2 separate regions of the Homo sapiens genome follow, and region 2 is linked to region 1. A link means that fine-mapping ties the variant in region 1 to the expression of a gene that starts in the linked region. Tissue or cell type: whole blood. Region 1 holds a variant in brackets; the other region holds the start of a gene. All regions are shown on one strand. Distances are from middle to middle.

Region 1 (8,151 bases):
CTTCATCTCACCTGAGGGCAAACTATACTGCCTGATGCACATCTTATAGACCTGAGCCTTGGGCCTCAAGATAGCTGTTTGCAGGTGACAGCTAGGTGTTGACCCATGCATGCTAGCTCCATCACTGATGGGATGAGAGGTAGCTGGATAAGGGATGGATACAGGTTCCAGGGGACAGGTCTCCTTGGGCCTACACATTCTGGCACATAACTCCAAGGGTCTTAGAATTCTAATTTGAACATGGCCTTCCAGGTTGTTAGAGGATATATCCATCAAGGAAGAAAACAGAACATATTTCATTTAACACTTGCTGGACTGTTGTATAATTTCTAACTATAGAGACATATGGTATATGGGCCTCCAACTCTACTCTTGTTCTGAGCCCCACAAATGCCCATTTGGTTCTGTCATTTCTTTGCATAGACAAGCTACATAACCTCTCTGAACTTCAGTTTCCTGAGCAGGAAAATGGGTCTATGGTAATAACTACATTATCAGGGCTGGTGAGAAAATGAAATAAAATAATCCATGTCAAGGGCTTGAGAAGAATGCCCTCTGGCTGTCGTCTCCTATGACTTCCTGTATGATCTCCAAACTGCTCTCTTTGCAGGGTTTCAACACGGCTGCTCCCTCCTGCCTCCTTACCCACAGCCAATAACCTCCCCATTCTCTCCACCTAGTCAAATCCCACCGTCTTCAATTGTGATAATAGCTGGTTGATTGCACGTTTACTACGTTTCAGGCATTGTATTAAGAACTTTCCATGCATTAACTCAGTTCTGACACCAACTCGATGAAGCAGGCACTGTTTATTATTCCCCAAACACAAAGACACAGGGATCTGGAGACTGGAAGCACTGGCGGCTGCAAGTGGCAGGGCTGGCGGGGTGTGAAGCCGGAGAGGAGTCTTTCTGCAGTCAGGCCTCCCAAATCCCGGGATGGAATCAAGGAGCCTTTGGCTGTCCCACCCCTCCTCCTCCAAGCCCCCAAATCCAAGTCTGTTATATCCCGTCAGCTCTGCGGGCCTGCCTGTGACTTTCAGCCCAAGGGGGCGGGCACTTCGTGTCACGCCACGTTGTCCACATCATCGACCCTCCCTCCCCTTCTCCCCTTCCTTCCTTCCCTCCCTCTCTTCCTCCCATTGAGTGCCAGTTCTGTGCCAAGCTTTGCTGTTCAAAATGTTACGAGTGGAGAAGTCAGGGAAGGATGGAATTATAGGTGTTTCTTCTTCATACCTTTCTGTTTGGCTGATTTTTTTTCAAATGAGCACGCAGGCCCGGTTCCTCAAACCCACTTCCAATGTGGCATTGCTGGGTTGGTTTGGTCCAAGGAAAGCCCTGTCTCCTTAACTCCCAGCCCCCACGCCTCCTCCGCCGGCCCCCAAATCCAGGCCGCCCTGCCCCCTCCGGAAAGGGGAGTTGGGGGCGAGCGCCGAAATCTGAGTGGCTCTTTCAAGCCTCCGTTGCCATAGAAACCGGCCGCACAGGCCGATGCTGTCCATTACACCATCCTCTAGCCTCGCAGCCAATGGACTCCGAGCTCCATCGCCAGAGGCCCCGCCCCCCAGCTCTGGGGAGTCCACCAATCAGCAGGTCCCGTGACTTAGAGCCCTGCCCTCGGCCCAGGGACACCACCAATGCGCTTCGACCCTGCCCTCCTTCTCTTCGGTGTAACAAGAAGACTCGATATTTTTTTTTTTTTTTTTAGGAATTCTCCAGATCAGAAGGAATTGGCAGTAAGGCCTCTGTCAGCTGCACCCTGAATAATCTTTGGCTGCTATTTTATTTAAGGAGAGCAAAACTGTTTCAATTACGCAACAATATATACCATTCTCTACTAAAACAATTTTAGGAAATGAAAATGTAGGCAATGGGATGATATAGTCTGCTCTATATGAATGTCTTTCATTATAGGTATTTTAATTTAACTTAAAATGATCAAGGAACTAGTCATCTTTCCTTTGTATTTCAAATGCATACAAAATTAAAGATACCGAGTTTTTTGATGCAGAGTTCATGAGACATTGACTTAATTAGTTGGTAGGCAACTTTTACTGAACCATCTAATTCCTGGTTCAGAACATTACAACTGGAGGATAAATGAATATTTCTCTTAATCCATGGAAGAAATTCTGTTTTTGAGGCGGGCTGCGTAAATGGCTCTGACACTCTGGAGTCTAAATAAACCAAATGTGTTTTTAAAACCCGTTTGCCATTACAAAAAAAAAACTTCAATTTTTTAGAACACTTTTAGATTTACAGAAAAATTGTGAATATAAAGTTCCCGTCTACCCCAGCCACCCACCCTGTTTCTTTCATTATTATTATTATTATTGAGACAGGGTCCCGCTCTTTCACCCAGGCTGGAGTGCAGTGGCGCGATCTCGGCTCACTGCAACCTCCGCCTCCCAGGCTCAGGCGATCCTCCCACCTCAGCCTCCCAAGTAGCAGAGACTACAGGGGCATGCCACCAAGCCCAGCTGATTTTTGCATTTTTCATAGAGATGAAGTCTCGCCATGTTGCTCAGGCTGGTGTTTCTGCTATTAACATCACATATGGTATTGCAGACGCATGGTATATTTGTTCCAATTAATAAACCAATAATGATACATTATTTATTAATTAGAGTTCACAGTTTATTCAGATTTCCTTCGTTTTTACCCAACGTTCTTTTTCTACTCCATCTTTTTCTACTCCAGGATCCATCCAGCATGCCTCATCGCACTAGCTGTCGTGTCTCTCTGGGCTCCTCTTGGCTGGGGCGGTTTCTCACATAGCAACATGACATCACTGTTGGTGCTGCGTCAGGTTTCTCTACTGGAAAGTCAGTCTTCTTTTGCCCCTTTTCATACTGTACTCTTTGGAAGGAAGTCACTATGCTCGGGCCACACTTAAGTGAGGAGTTATGCTCTATCTCCTTAAGGTTGGAATAGCTACATAGATTATTTGGGATTTTTCTACACTGAAGATTTGTCTCATTTATTCAGTAATTTATTTATATCAGTATGGATTCACAGATAATTATTTAATACTTTAGGTTATAATCCAATACTATTTGATTTTGTTGCTCAAGTTGTTCCAGCTTTGGCTTTTGGGAGCTCTTTCGGTTGGCTCCCGTCTCCCTTTGACACACCCCTATTTTTGTGGGGTTTTCTCGTTGCCGTCAAGCACTTCCTTACTTTCTGGCACTACAAGATGCCTCAGGCTCATCTTTCGTATTTCCTGCCCCAGTCCTCAAATCAGCCATTTCGCAAGAGCTTTGATTGTTTCGGAGAAGGGTATTTATTAGAAACCAAGAACTGGGCGCTAGGTGCACTCATTGCTACTAGGGTGTCATTTATTTCCTTCCTCCCTCCCTCCCTCCCTCCCTTCCTTTTTGAGACAGAGTCTCACTCCATCACCCACACTGGAGTGCACACTCATGGCTACAGCCACGTAGCCATGGTAATGAAGCCATAACCTCACGAAGCTTCCAGTTTACACAATTAGAGGGTTAATTACCAAGTTGCCCAGCACTCTGCAGTGTGCTGTGTAGGCAATGCGGGGGTAAATTATCTGAAGAGAATTTAAAGACAATAAAAACTGCAGCCTAGACCTCCTGGGCTCAAGTGATCCTCCCTCCTTAGCCTCCTGAGTAGCTAGGACCACAGGTGTGTGCCACCACACTCAGCTAATTTTAATTTTCAATTTTTTTTTTTGTAGAGATAAGGTCTTGCCATGTTGCCCAGACTGATACAACTCCCGGCCTCAAGCCATCCTCCTGCCTTGGCCTCCCAAAGTGTTGGGATTACAGGCGTGAGCCACCACACCTGGCCTTGGGGTATCATTTCTTTTAAGCCTTCTCAACTGACAGAACAAAGAAATATATCTGTATATACCAATGTGTATATATATACACACATATCTATATTTCCATTTGTAACCATCTGTATATATATTAAGCTAAACATGAGTTCCTGTTTATATTTACCACTTGAATCCAGGGATCATTTGGCTTGCTTCCTGCTTGCTTATCTCTAAATTCCCACTCCAATAACGGGAAACCTGGTTCCCATCATCCACATCCACCATCCATTTACTTAATTGTTCAAGTCCAGTATACATGTGTAGGATTATCAAAATTGTTAACCCATACCCCTGTGGGAAACTTTATCAAGTAGAGTACATTCTTCTGAACACTTTCTTTTGCCTTTAGTGTTCCAGCAGACTCCACTTGTTTCTTTTTTCTTTTTCTTTTTTTTTTTTTTTTGAGACAGAGCCTCACTCTGTTGCCCAGGTTGGAGTGCTGGAGTGCAGCGGGGCCATCACAGCTCACAGCAGCCTTGACTTCCCAGTCTTAAGTGATCCTCCTGCCTCAGCCTCCCAAGTAGCTGGGACTACAGGCATGCGCCACTACACCCATCTAATTTTTTAAAATTTTTGTAGAGATGGGATCTCACTATGTTGCCTAGGCTTGTCTCCAACTCCTGGGCTCCAGTGATCCTCCCGCCTCAGCCTCCCAAAGTCCTGGGATTAAAGGCATGAGCCACCACGCCTGGCCCACTCATTTCTAAAGTTACTTAGGTCAGCAC[G/A]TTTTCCTCTATCCTCTTCATGAGGTCATTTCACACATTTGTAATACGGTGAAGATGTTTGTCATATTCTGCATGACATTTTGGAATTATCTAAATGTCCTAAGTGATTTTTTTAACTTTGCATGCATTAAGGTTCACTTTTTGTGCTATTAAGTTTAATGGATATCAACCAATGCACAGTCATATACCCACATTTCTTCACCCTAAAAAACCCCCTGTGCTCACTTATTGAACCCTCTCCCCGCCAAACACTGGCAACCACACATCCGTTTACTGTATCTATGGTTTTGCCTTTTTGTGCCATTATTAAAAAAAAGAAAGACGCACAATATTTTTGTTGTTGCTCTTGTCACAGCTGCCACCCATTGAATCCTTACTATGTCCCAGGTCCAGAATTACACTGTCCCATTTTGAAGATGAGGAAACAGATGCAAATGAGTTGAAGTACTCCCTAGAGACTCATAACAATAAGCAAAGTTTGACTTCTATGATTAACTTCTGAGTCACCTCTGGGAATATTTGTAATATGTCTAATAGCCACACTTCTTTTGTTTGTTTTGATACAGGGGTCTTGCTGTTGCCTAGGCTGGAGTACAGTGGCTACTCACAGGTGCAATCATAGGGCACTACAGCCTTGAACTCCTGGGCTCAAGCAATCCTCCTGCCTCAACCTCAAAAGTGGCTGGGACTACAATGTGTGCCACTGTGCCCAGCTATATTAGCCACATTTCAAGTACTCAATAGCCGCTGTGCAGTTTATACTATTATATTGGTTTCTGAGTTTTGTTTTTGAGACTGCGTCTTGCTCTGTCACCAGGCTGGAGTGCAATGGCACAATCTCGGCTCACTGCAACCTCCACCACCTGGGTTCAAGCGATTCTCCTGCCTCAGCCTCCCAAATAGCTGAGACTACAGGTACGTATCACCAAGACCAGCTAACTTTTGTATTTTTAGTAGAGACATGGTTTCACCATGTTGGCCAGGATGGTCTCGATCTCTTGACCTCGTGATCTGCCCGCCTCGGCCTCCCAAAGTGTTGGGATTACAGGTGTGAGCCACCGTGCCTAGCTATATTGTTTTTTAAAAGATCTCTTATTATTTAGTGAAAAGAAAGGACCTGTAGTCTCAGTTACTCAGGAGGCTGAGGTGGGAAGATCATTTGAGCCCCAGAGTTTGAGGTAGCAGTGAGCTATGATGATGCCACTGCACTCCAGCCTGGGCAACAGAGGGAGATGCCATCTCACACACATACAAAAGAAAAGAGACCTTGTAATGCACACACTATCATAATCTCTGATTTTTCTTTTTTTTTTTTTTTTTTTGAGACACTGTCTTGCTCTGTTGCCCAGGCTGGAGTGCAGTGGGGTGATCACTGCTCACTGCAGCCTCAACCTCCTGGGCTCAAGTGATCCTCCCACCTCAGCCTCCCCAGTGGTTGGGACCACAAATGTGCACCACCACAACTGGTAAATTTTTTATTTATTGTAGAGATGTGGGTCTCAATATTTTGCCCAGGCTGGTCTCAAACTCCTAGGCTCAAGCTAGCCTCCCAAAGTGCTGGGATTATAGGTATGAGCCACTGGCTTTTTTTGTTTGTTTGTTTGTTTTTGTTTTTGATATGGAGTTTTGCTCTTGTTGCCCAGGCTGGAGTGCAATGGCGCTATCTTGGCTCACTGCAACCTCTGCCTCCCAGGTTCAAGTAATTCTCCTCCCTCAGCCTTCTGAGTAGCTGGGATTACAGGCATGCGCCAACACCTCCAGTTAATTTTGTATTTTTAGTAGAGACGGGGTTTCTCCATGTTGGTCAGACTGGTCTCAAACTCCTGACCGCAGGTGATCTGCCTGCCTCAGCCTCCAAAAGTGCTGGGATTACAGGTGCGAGCCACTGCCCCTGGCCTGACTTTTTTAAAATCAGGAAATTTAGATGAATCAAAAAAGAAATTACCTTGTCCCTATTGTTCTCTTCTCATTATGAATGTCTTTGAGGACCATGCCAGTTGGCAAATAGGTATTTTGGAGCTAGACACAGTTAGGGTGAGTGGAGTAACACGACAGTACCTACAACAGCCACACCCACACCTGAGTTGGCTTCATCCTGCCTTCAGGTATCATTAAGAATAGGTATTATTATTATTATTATTATTATTATTATTTTGAGACCGAGTCTCACTCTGTCGCCCAGGCTGGAGTGCAGTGGCACAATCTCCGCTCATTGCAACCTCTGCCTCCCAGGTTCAAGCGATTCTCCTGCCTCAGCCTTCTGGGACTACAGGCCCGTGCCACCACGCCCGGCTAATTTTTTGTATTTTTAGTAGAGATGGGTTTCATCGTGTTAGCCAGGATGGTTTCCATCTCCTGACCTCATGATCCTCCTGCCTCAGCCTTCCAAAGTGCTGGGATTACAGATGTGAGCCACCACACCTGGCCATATATATATTTTTTTCTTTGAGACAGTTCCACTCTGTCACCCAGGCTGGAGTGCAGTGGTGTGATCATGGCTCACTGCAGCCTGGAACTCCCAGGCTCAAGAGATCCTCCTGACTCAGTCTCCCAAGTAACTAGGACTATAGGCACACACCACCAGGCCCAGTTAATTTTTCTATTTTTAGAGACGGGGTCTCACTATGTTGCCCAGACTCGTCTCGAACTCCTGGGCTCAAGCAATCCTTCCAACCTCTACTTCCCAAAGTGTTGGGATTGTAGGCATGAGACACCACATCTGGCCTATAATGGAATATTATTTGGCAATAAAAAGGAAGTTCTGATACATGCTACAACATAGATGAACCTAGAAATCATGATGCTAAGTGAAAGAAGCCAGGCACAAAAGGCCACATGTTGTATGATTCTCTTTACATGAACTGTCCAGAAGAGACAAATCCATGGATACAGAAGCAGATTAATGGTGGCCTAGGGCTGGGGATTAGAGGGAAGGCAGAGCAGATGGGAGAGTGACTGCTAATGAGTACTGATGCTAATGGTTTCTTTTGGGGATGATGAAAATAGTCTAAAATCCATTGTGGCAACAGTTACACAACTCTGTGAATGCACTGAAAGCCACTGAATTGTAAACTATAAATGACTGAATAGTGTGGTATGTGAATTACATCTCAACAAAGCTGTTTTTTTTTTTTTTTAATGTTCTGGAAGAATCAGGATAGACATTACCTCAGGTGAAGGAAGGCAGGAGATGGGATGGTAAAGGAATTCATTGGGGAAAACAGGTTATCAATGTTCCAGTTCTTGTGTCAGATTGCTGACTCCACAGATTTTTATTATGTTATGTAAAAATAAATACACACAGGGCCAGGCATGGTGGCTCACACCTGTATCCCAGCACTTTGGGAGGCTGTGGTGGGAAAATCGCTTGAGCCCAGGAGTTCAAGACCAGCCTAGGAAACATAGTGAGAACCTGCCTCTACAAAAAAAATTTTTCGAAATTAGCCAGCCATGGTGGCATGCATCTGTAGTCCTAACTACTTGGGAGGCTGAGGCAGGAGGATCACTTGGGCCCAGAAGTTCCAGGATGCAGTGAGCTATGATCGCACCACTGTACTCCAGCCCAGGCAACAGAGCAAGA
Region 2 (8,151 bases), 68 kb after region 1:
CTCACATTATATTTCTATTGGAACACAGAATGGTCTAGAGAATTGGGATTTGACAAACCCAGCTGTGACAAGTCACCAAAATTTGGGGGCCATACCCAGGGTGCCGTTCCTGTCACGATACCCATAGGTCCATGTGGAGGCTGCAGGGATACAAAGCTCGTGAAATATCCCAGGATGGCATGGGCACTGGAGTCAGCTGCCCCAAGTTCAAATCTGAAATCAGTCTTTTTGTTTTTTTTTTTTTTTTGAGATGCAGTTTCACTCTTGTTGCCCAAGCTGGAATGCAGTGGCGCAATTGGCTCACTGCAACCTCCGCCTCCTGGGTTCAAGCGATTCTCCTGTCTCAGCCTCCCGAGTAGCTGGGATTACAGGTACATGCCATCACGCCCGGCTAAATTTTTGTATTCTTAGCAGAAACCGGGTTTCACCACCTTAGCCAGGCTGGTCTCCATCTCCTGACTTCAGGTGATCCGCCTGCCTCAGCCTCCCAAAGTGTTGGGATTACAGGCGTGAGCCACCGCGCCCAGCCTGAAATCAGTCTTATACGACCAGCTGGGTGGTCTTGGGTAGGTCCCTTACCTTAACTCTTCTTGTCTGCAGAATGGAGGTGACTTACTGTTTTTCTCTGTCTCCCTTTCACATCTTTGCACTCTTCACCCCTTCTCTTCCCTCAGCTTTTAGTTTAAACATCACCTTTCTGATAAGCCCTGCTGAAAATGGCCACCCTCAGTCATGACGGAGAACAAGTCTTTCCTATTTTATTCAAGAAAATGCATGATGCAATCTATTTTAAATGATCATGGTTTTAATTTTATTTTCCTGATAATGGTCTATCTCTCCACTGATTTATAAGATTTGTAAGAGCAGGGGTGGATCATTCTGGTCACTGCTGAGTCCCCAGCATTTAGAACAGGGGCTGACACAGCACAAAACAACGTTAGTTGGGAATGTACAAGCAAACCCAGCACACCTTCAGAGGGGTGCTCAGGAAACAGCCCTCCCACCTTTCTTCACCCCTCACAGCTGTGGGATCTTCCTAACCATTTCGGTGTCCCAGGATAGAGGATGAGTTTATTCACCCCTCCCCAGCAGGGGAGTTGCCAGGATTAAATGAGATCCCAGAATGCCCTGGTATACCCTGAAGGCTCTGGGACACAGGTGAGCTGGTCCCCAGGGATTTGGAAACAGGAAAACAAATATGACTCCACCCTGCCTCCCATCCAGCCTCTGCCTAGAGGAGTTATTTTATTTTATTTTACTTTTTTTTTTTTTTTGAGACGGAGTCTTGCTCTGTCGCCCAGGCTGGAGTGCAATGGCGCAATCTCAGCTCATTGCAACTCCTGCCTCCTGGGTTCAAGCGATTCTCCTGCCTCAGCCTCCCGAGTAGCTGGGACTACAGGTGTGTTTTTTGTATTTTTAGTAATTTTTTGTACTTTTAGTAGAAACGGGTTTCACCGTGTTAGCCAGGATGGTCTTGATCTCCCGACCTCGTGATCCACCTGCCTCAGCCTCCCAAAGTGCTGGGATTACAGGCATAAGCCACCACGCCCAGCCTCTAGAGGAGTTATTTTACTTACTTACTTATTTATTTATTACACAGGATCTCACTCTGTCACCCAACCTGGAGTGCAGTGGCACAATCACGTTTCACTGTAACCTGAACTCCTGGGCTCAAGTGATCCTCCTACCTCAGCTTCCTAAGTAGCTGGGACCACAAGCTCGTACCACCATGCCCGCTATCTTTTTCTCTTTGTAAAGACAGGGTCTTACTATGTCATCCAGGCTGTTCTCAAACTCCTGGCCTCAAGCAATCCTCCCGTCTTGGCCTCCCAAAGTGCTAGGATTACAGACATGAGCCAGCTCACCCAGCTGAGGAGTTATTTTTTGACACTGGTGAATTCAGATCAAAAGGGATTTCTAAGAAAGGTGCTGGACCCAGGCCGGGCGCGGTGGCTCATGCCTGTAATCTCAGCACTTTGGGAGGCCGAGGCAGGTGGATTATCTGAGGTCAGGAGTTCGAGACCAGCCTGACCAACATGGAGAAACCCTGTCTCTACTAAAAATACAAAATTAGCCAGGCATAGTAGCGCATGCCTGTAATCCCAGCTACTTGGGAGGCTGAGGCAGGAGAATCGCTTGAACCCGGGAGGTGGAGGTTGCAGTGAGCCGAGATCGTGCCATCGCACTCAATCCTGGGCAACGAGTGAAACTCTGCCTCAAAAAAAGAAAAAAAAAGAAAGGTGCTGGACGCCTAGGACGCAGAGGGGTGTTTCACCCCAAATCAAGTAGCACCAAGCCCTCCCAGGCCTTGGGTGCAAGCATATTAAAGGCCTCTTTCCCTCTCTGTCTCCATTGTTTACACTCCACTGAGCATCCGCAATGTGCCACACACTGTTCTAAGCGTCTTACACATATTAAATTATTTAATCCTCACAACAACTTTATGAAGTGAGCGCAATTATGAGCCCATTTTATGGAGCAGGAAGTTGAGGCAGGGTTTTAGGTAGCTTTTCTGGGGTAGCACTGTGGGTTGGAGCGGAGGTGGAGTGCACTCTTAGGCCAGCTGGCTCTAGGGGCTCTTCACCACTAGGCCGCACTGCCTCTAGCAAAGGGACGCGGGGAAGCTCAGCAGACCTTAGGCCTCCCAAGGGCGCCACGGTGGTTCCTTTGAGCCCAGAGTCAGCTCTTAAGTCCATAGGCCTTCCTGAAGCTTCTGAACCACTTGCCCATAGCTGGGCCTCAGGCTGGCTCTCAGTAGAATGTGGAGAATGGAGATTCCCGCATGTCCACTTCTCCTAAAGGTTTTATAAGGCAGTGCTGGGAATGTGCTTTATAAAAAAGGGGAAGCACCCCGACAACAGTCACTGTTTGCTCTTTTAAGCACCATCCTGAGAAGGAGGAATGTTCTTCCCATTTCATAGGTGGGGAAACCGAGGCTCAGAAGAGCAAATTTTTGGCCGGGCGCGGTGGCTCACGCCTGTAATCCCAGCACTTTGGGAGGCCGAGGCGGGTGGATCACGAGGTCAGGAGATCGAGACCATCCTGGCTAACAAGGTGAAACCCCGTCTCTACTAAAAATACAAAAAATTAGCCGGGCGTGGTGCGGGCGCCTGTAGTCCCAGCTACTCGGGAGGCTGAGGCAGGAGAATGGCGTGAACCCGGGAGGCGGAGCTTGCAGTGAGCCGAGATCGCGCCACCGCCCTCCAGCCTGGGCGACAGAGCAAGACTCTGTCTCAAAAAAAAAAAAAAAAAGAGCAAATTTTTTTTCCAAGGTGATAGGGAGAGTCCGTGGCTGATGTCTGCACTGACCAGACGCCCCTAGGGGGCCAGCGAGGGCGGGTCCCAGGTGCAGCGGATGCAGAGGAGAGAGGCCCGGGCGCGGCGCGGGGGATGGTGCGATCCCGGGCCCGAGGGCATCAGACGGCGGCTGATTAGCTCCGGTTTGCATCACCCGGACCGGGGGATTAGCTCCGGTTTGCATCACCCGGACCGGGGGATTAGCTCCGGTTTGCATCACCCGGACCGGGGGCCGGGCGCGCACGAGACTCGCAGCGGAAGTGGAGGCGGCTCCGCGCGCGTCCGCTGCTAGGACCCGGGCAGGGCTGGAGCTGGGCTGGGATCCCGAGCTCGGCAGCAGCGCAGCGGGCCGGCCCACCTGCTGGTGCCCTGGAGGCTCTGAGCCCCGGCGGCGCCCGGGCCCACGCGGAACGACGGGGCGAGGTACTCGGCGGGGTGCGGCCTGCGGACTCGCCCGGAGGCCGGGGGGCGGGAGGGGGCGGCCGGGGAAGGGGGCGCCGGAAGCCTCTGGGCGTCTGCGTGTTGCCGCGTGTTACACGCACGCACGCCCCTTACACACCTTTTCACAGACCCCGCCGTCGGGGCGCGGCCAGGTCAGATCCCTTTTGATCCGGGCCTGGGCTGAGTGCTCCCCCCGGGCTTCAGGTGACGCGGCCCCGCGGAGCGTGGGGTCGCCCGAGTTGGGCTGGGGAAGCCAGGGACGGAGGTGTCCGGCCGTCACCCCTAGAGGAGGGCGTGCGGGGGTCTGTTTTGCGTGAGTGCGGGATAGGGGAGTCGTGTGGTGCGGTGAGGGGCTTGTGGGGGGCACTGGAGGACTCTGGGGGTGGCGGGGGATCCGAGGGGGTCCTCGTGAACCCGCAGGGGAGAGTCCTGGGTGAGGGTGGGTCCCGAGCACCTGTGTCTCAGGAGATGGTGAGAGCTGTCTGGAGGGCTGGGCACTTGGTGGCAGGGGTTGGCGGTGCAGGGGACACCGCCGGGACAGGGCTGGGGTGCCCTGGAGCGGGGGAGCCGAGGGAGTGGGAGCGGGGGCGCAGCGCGCGATCTCTGGCCCGGCAGGGCCGCTGGTTCTCCCCAGTGCGCGGCTCCGGGTTTGCAGGTGGACGGTGCGCGCGTGTCTGCGGTGTGTGCTGTGCCTGCAGACCGGGGAGGGCGGGGGACGACAGCCACCTCCTTCCCTCTGCCTCACCCCCCTCCTGTCCCAGGGCCGCGCTTCAATTTCCGCTGAAACTTCTGACTCGGACACCCGCCGCCTTTCGCTTGGGCTCCCACGGGAGGGGCCTGGCTGCGGGGGGCGGGGCGGGGTGGGGGTGCGGCCTTGCTCGGGTAGACCATGGGTGTGACAGCTGGGAGGGCTGTGTGTGTGTGTGTGTGTGTGTGTGTGCGTGCGCGCGCGCGCTTGCGCTTGATGTAACCCGCCCTCATTTCCCTGGGTCCCGAGTGTGGCAGGGAACAGCAAGAGGTAGATATTAGGGGCTGCTTTCATTCCACATCACAGATTCTATTCTGCAGTGTGGTCTGCAAAATGCCTTGCCCAAGATGTATAGACTCAGTTACCGCATCTGTCCCCATCTGGGTGGAGCTTATCCCAGGCCCCAACAGGCTCTGAGGGATGGCCGGGGCCAAGGCAGCCTGGACTACTGATGTGGCACAGGCCAGAGGGACTCCAGGCAGTCTCCTGCTGCACAGGGCACAAAGCATGTGCACAGCCAGGTATCATCCTGCGTGACTCAGAACAGCCTTGAGATGTAAGGAGTGTCATCCCAGCCTCGAACCTGGGGAGCTTTCTAAGACTCCCAAGGATGGTACTTATGCATCTTGCTGTGAAGAATAACAGGATGAGTGCTAATAATGACCATTTCCTGACACCTACCTGGCAACAGGTCCATAAGCTCTACATGCTTCATTTGTGTTTTCATTTCATCATCACGAAAAACCTGTAAGCTTTGCATCCTGTTCCCACTTTACAGGAACTGAGGCTCAGAAAGCTTGAGGAACTTGACCAGGGGTACCCCCCAGCTAGAAAGGGTTTGAGACAGGATTAGAACCCAGGAATATCTGACTACAGCCACTCCTTACTGCATTCTTACCAAGCCAAAGTCATGACCTTTCACTCATGTGGGGAGGCCTTCCCTTCCAAGGCAGCTCTTCCATTTGGGAGCAGCGTACTTGGAGAGGTGGGCCTCTGTCTGGTAACTGACTCATGTTGCCTTGTTAATCCTGCCTTGAACTGTTGGGAAGGTCTTTAACCAGGCTGAGGTCTCTCGCACCAATGCCCATACCTGGGCATGCACCTCCTTGGAATGGAGTTTAAGTGGGTGGGCAGATGGGTTCTAGAGAGAACCCGTCTGCCCTGACCATGCCCTACTGCCCTCTCCTTCAGCCACCACACACACAGTCACACAGCTGCGTGAATGGTGGCTTTCCTTTCACTTAACAGTTCACTCTGGAGATCCTTCCAATTACCCTATAAAGAGCATCCTCAACCTTTTAAATGGCTGCACATTGTTCCGTTGTGTGGATGAAGTATAATTTATGTAACCAGCCCTGTAATTATAGACAGCCAATTATTTCTGTCAAAAGGGCTGCAGGAATAACTGTGTATTTGCATGCTTACACACACACACCTCTACAGAATAAATTCTTAGCAATGGGATTAATTGCTGAATCAAAGCTCACACGCTTTTCATCGTTGTTTTTGTTTTGTTTTGTTTTGCTTTGTTTTGAGACAGTCTCACTTTGTTGCACAGGCTAGAGTTCCTGACCATGGCTCACTGAAGCCTTTACCTTCTGGGCTCAAGTGATTCCCCTACTTCAACCTCCTGCATGGCTGGGACTACAGCTGTGTGCCATCATGACCAGATAATTTTTTTTTTCTTAGGGACAGGGTCTCGCTACGTTGCCTAGGCTGGTCTTGAACTCCTGGGCTCAAGTGATCTTCCTGCTTCAGCCTCCCAAAGTACTGGGATTACAGGCATGAAGCACTGCACCCAGCCTGTTTTTCATTTTGATATTGTCAAAATGCACTCCTCAGAGGTGGTACCTTTTATCCTCCCACTAGCACTGTCTTCATTGTTAGTGGCTGCACTGCCACTATTCCACAGTATAAACCCACTTTTCATGACACTGCCAAGACATAAGGGTCTGAAATACTTAACAGTTTTCTTCCACAGTCCCCAAAATACAGGCTTCTCCCCCAGCTCAGGACATGAAGCCATCATCCCTCCTCATTGCAGGAGCCAAAGGCTGGACCTCACCTCGATTCCACCCTCTCCTTCACCCCTCACATCCAATCCATCCAGTCCATCCAGTCTGCCACTGAGTCCTCTTGATCTTCCTCCTATGAGCCCTTAACTTCGCGTCTCCATCTAGCACCCCCTAGTCCAGGTCACCTTCTCCTGCCTGGACTCGTGCTTGTGTGGGCCTCCTAGCTAGTCTCACTGCCCCGTCTTGTACTTTCAAATCCACCCTAAAAGCATGATGTTCCCCTGCTGAAATCCTTCAGTGGCTCCCCACTGCCTTTGGATAATTCCAAATCCTATTGTGTGTTAATTAGGATTAGGCTCAGCTGTAATATAGAAACAGCCACTTAATAGCTAAAATGAAATAGACGTTTTTTTCTTCTTTTTCTCTTTTTTTGAGACAGAGTCTTGCTCTGTCCCCAGGCTGGAGTGCAGTGGCGAGATCTCAGCTCACTACAACCTCTGCCTCCCAGGCTCAAGTGATTCTCCTGCCTCAGCCTCCCGAGTAGCTGGGACTACAGGCATGCACCACCATGCCCACCTAATTTTTGTATGTTTAGTAGAGATGGGGTTTCACCATGTTGGCCAAGATGGTCTCGATCTCCTGACCTTGTGATCTGCCTGCCTCGGCCTCCCAAAGTGCTGGGATTACAGGCATGAGCCACTGCGCCCAGCCTTCAATAGATGTTTATTTCTCTCCTGTGTAAAAAACCTGGAGGTCTGGCCTGACAACTCCATGTGTCAGGGACCTAGGCTCCTCTCTTGCTCTACTGTATGTGGTACTTCTGAAGCCAAGGTAGATGCTGGAGCTCCAGCAGTTAGGTCCACATTCCAGCATACAGGAAAGGAGGAAATGAGGAAGTTGGGCCCTCCCTTTAAGAACACTGTCCTGGGCATTGTACACAACACTTCCACTTGTGTCCTACTAGCCATATGCTGATACAAGGATACAAGGGAGACAGGAAATGCAGTTTATTCTAGGTGTCCTTGTGCTCAGCTGAAAATCTCAGGTTCTAATCCTATGTAAGGAGGGGAGACCTGAAACTGGGGACCACTAACCACCTCTGCCATATGATGCTCGTAGAGCCCTTCACAATAGGGCCTCTACTAACCTCACCTTATTTTTATTTATTTATTTATTTTTGAGACGGAGTTTCACTCTTGTCGCCCAGGCCGGAGTGCAATGACACTATCTCAGCTCACCGCAACCTTTGCCTCCTGGGTTCAAGCAACTCTCCTGCCTCAGACTCCTGAGTAGCTGGGATTACAGGCGTGTGCCACCACGCCCGGCTAATTTTTGTAGTTTTAGTAGAGACGGGGTTTCACCATGTTGGTCAGGCTGGTCTCAAACTCCTGACCTCAGGTGACCTGCCTGCCTCGGCCTCCCAAAGTGCTGGGATTACAGGTGTGAGCCACCACGCCCGGCCTATTTTTTTTTTTTTTTTAACTTTTCACTTTTTTTTGCAGTCACGCTCATTCTCCACCGTGTTCTTGGGGAACATGCAGCATGTTCTTTTGCCTCTTCCCTCACCCCAGAACAGGGGTTACTGGACAGCGGCATCAACTTCACCTGGGAACTGGATAGAAATGCAGATTCAGACCTTCTGAATGAGCT

What was found. PIP is the estimated chance that this variant, and not a neighbour inherited with it, causes the effect.
Region 2: it holds the start of TRIB3, and the variant in region 1 is fine-mapped to the expression of TRIB3 in whole blood (INTERVAL, PIP above 0.99).

The regions. Positions count from the first base shown.
Region 1 is chr20:309,032-317,182 of GRCh38, forward strand. No RefSeq gene overlaps it. Among named protein-coding and RNA genes, the nearest start is that of NRSN2-AS1, 12 kb to the right of the region's middle. RefSeq lists enhancers at 649-708, 1,458-1,537. The variant G/A (reference allele first, on the strand shown) is at 4,572.
Region 2 is chr20:377,450-385,600 of GRCh38, forward strand. TRIB3 (tribbles pseudokinase 3) reads left to right here and starts at 3,311. Exons shown (of 4, transcript NM_021158.5): 1 at 3,311-3,720. RefSeq lists silencers at 3,595-3,754, 3,775-3,884, 4,155-4,744 and an enhancer at 4,430-5,428.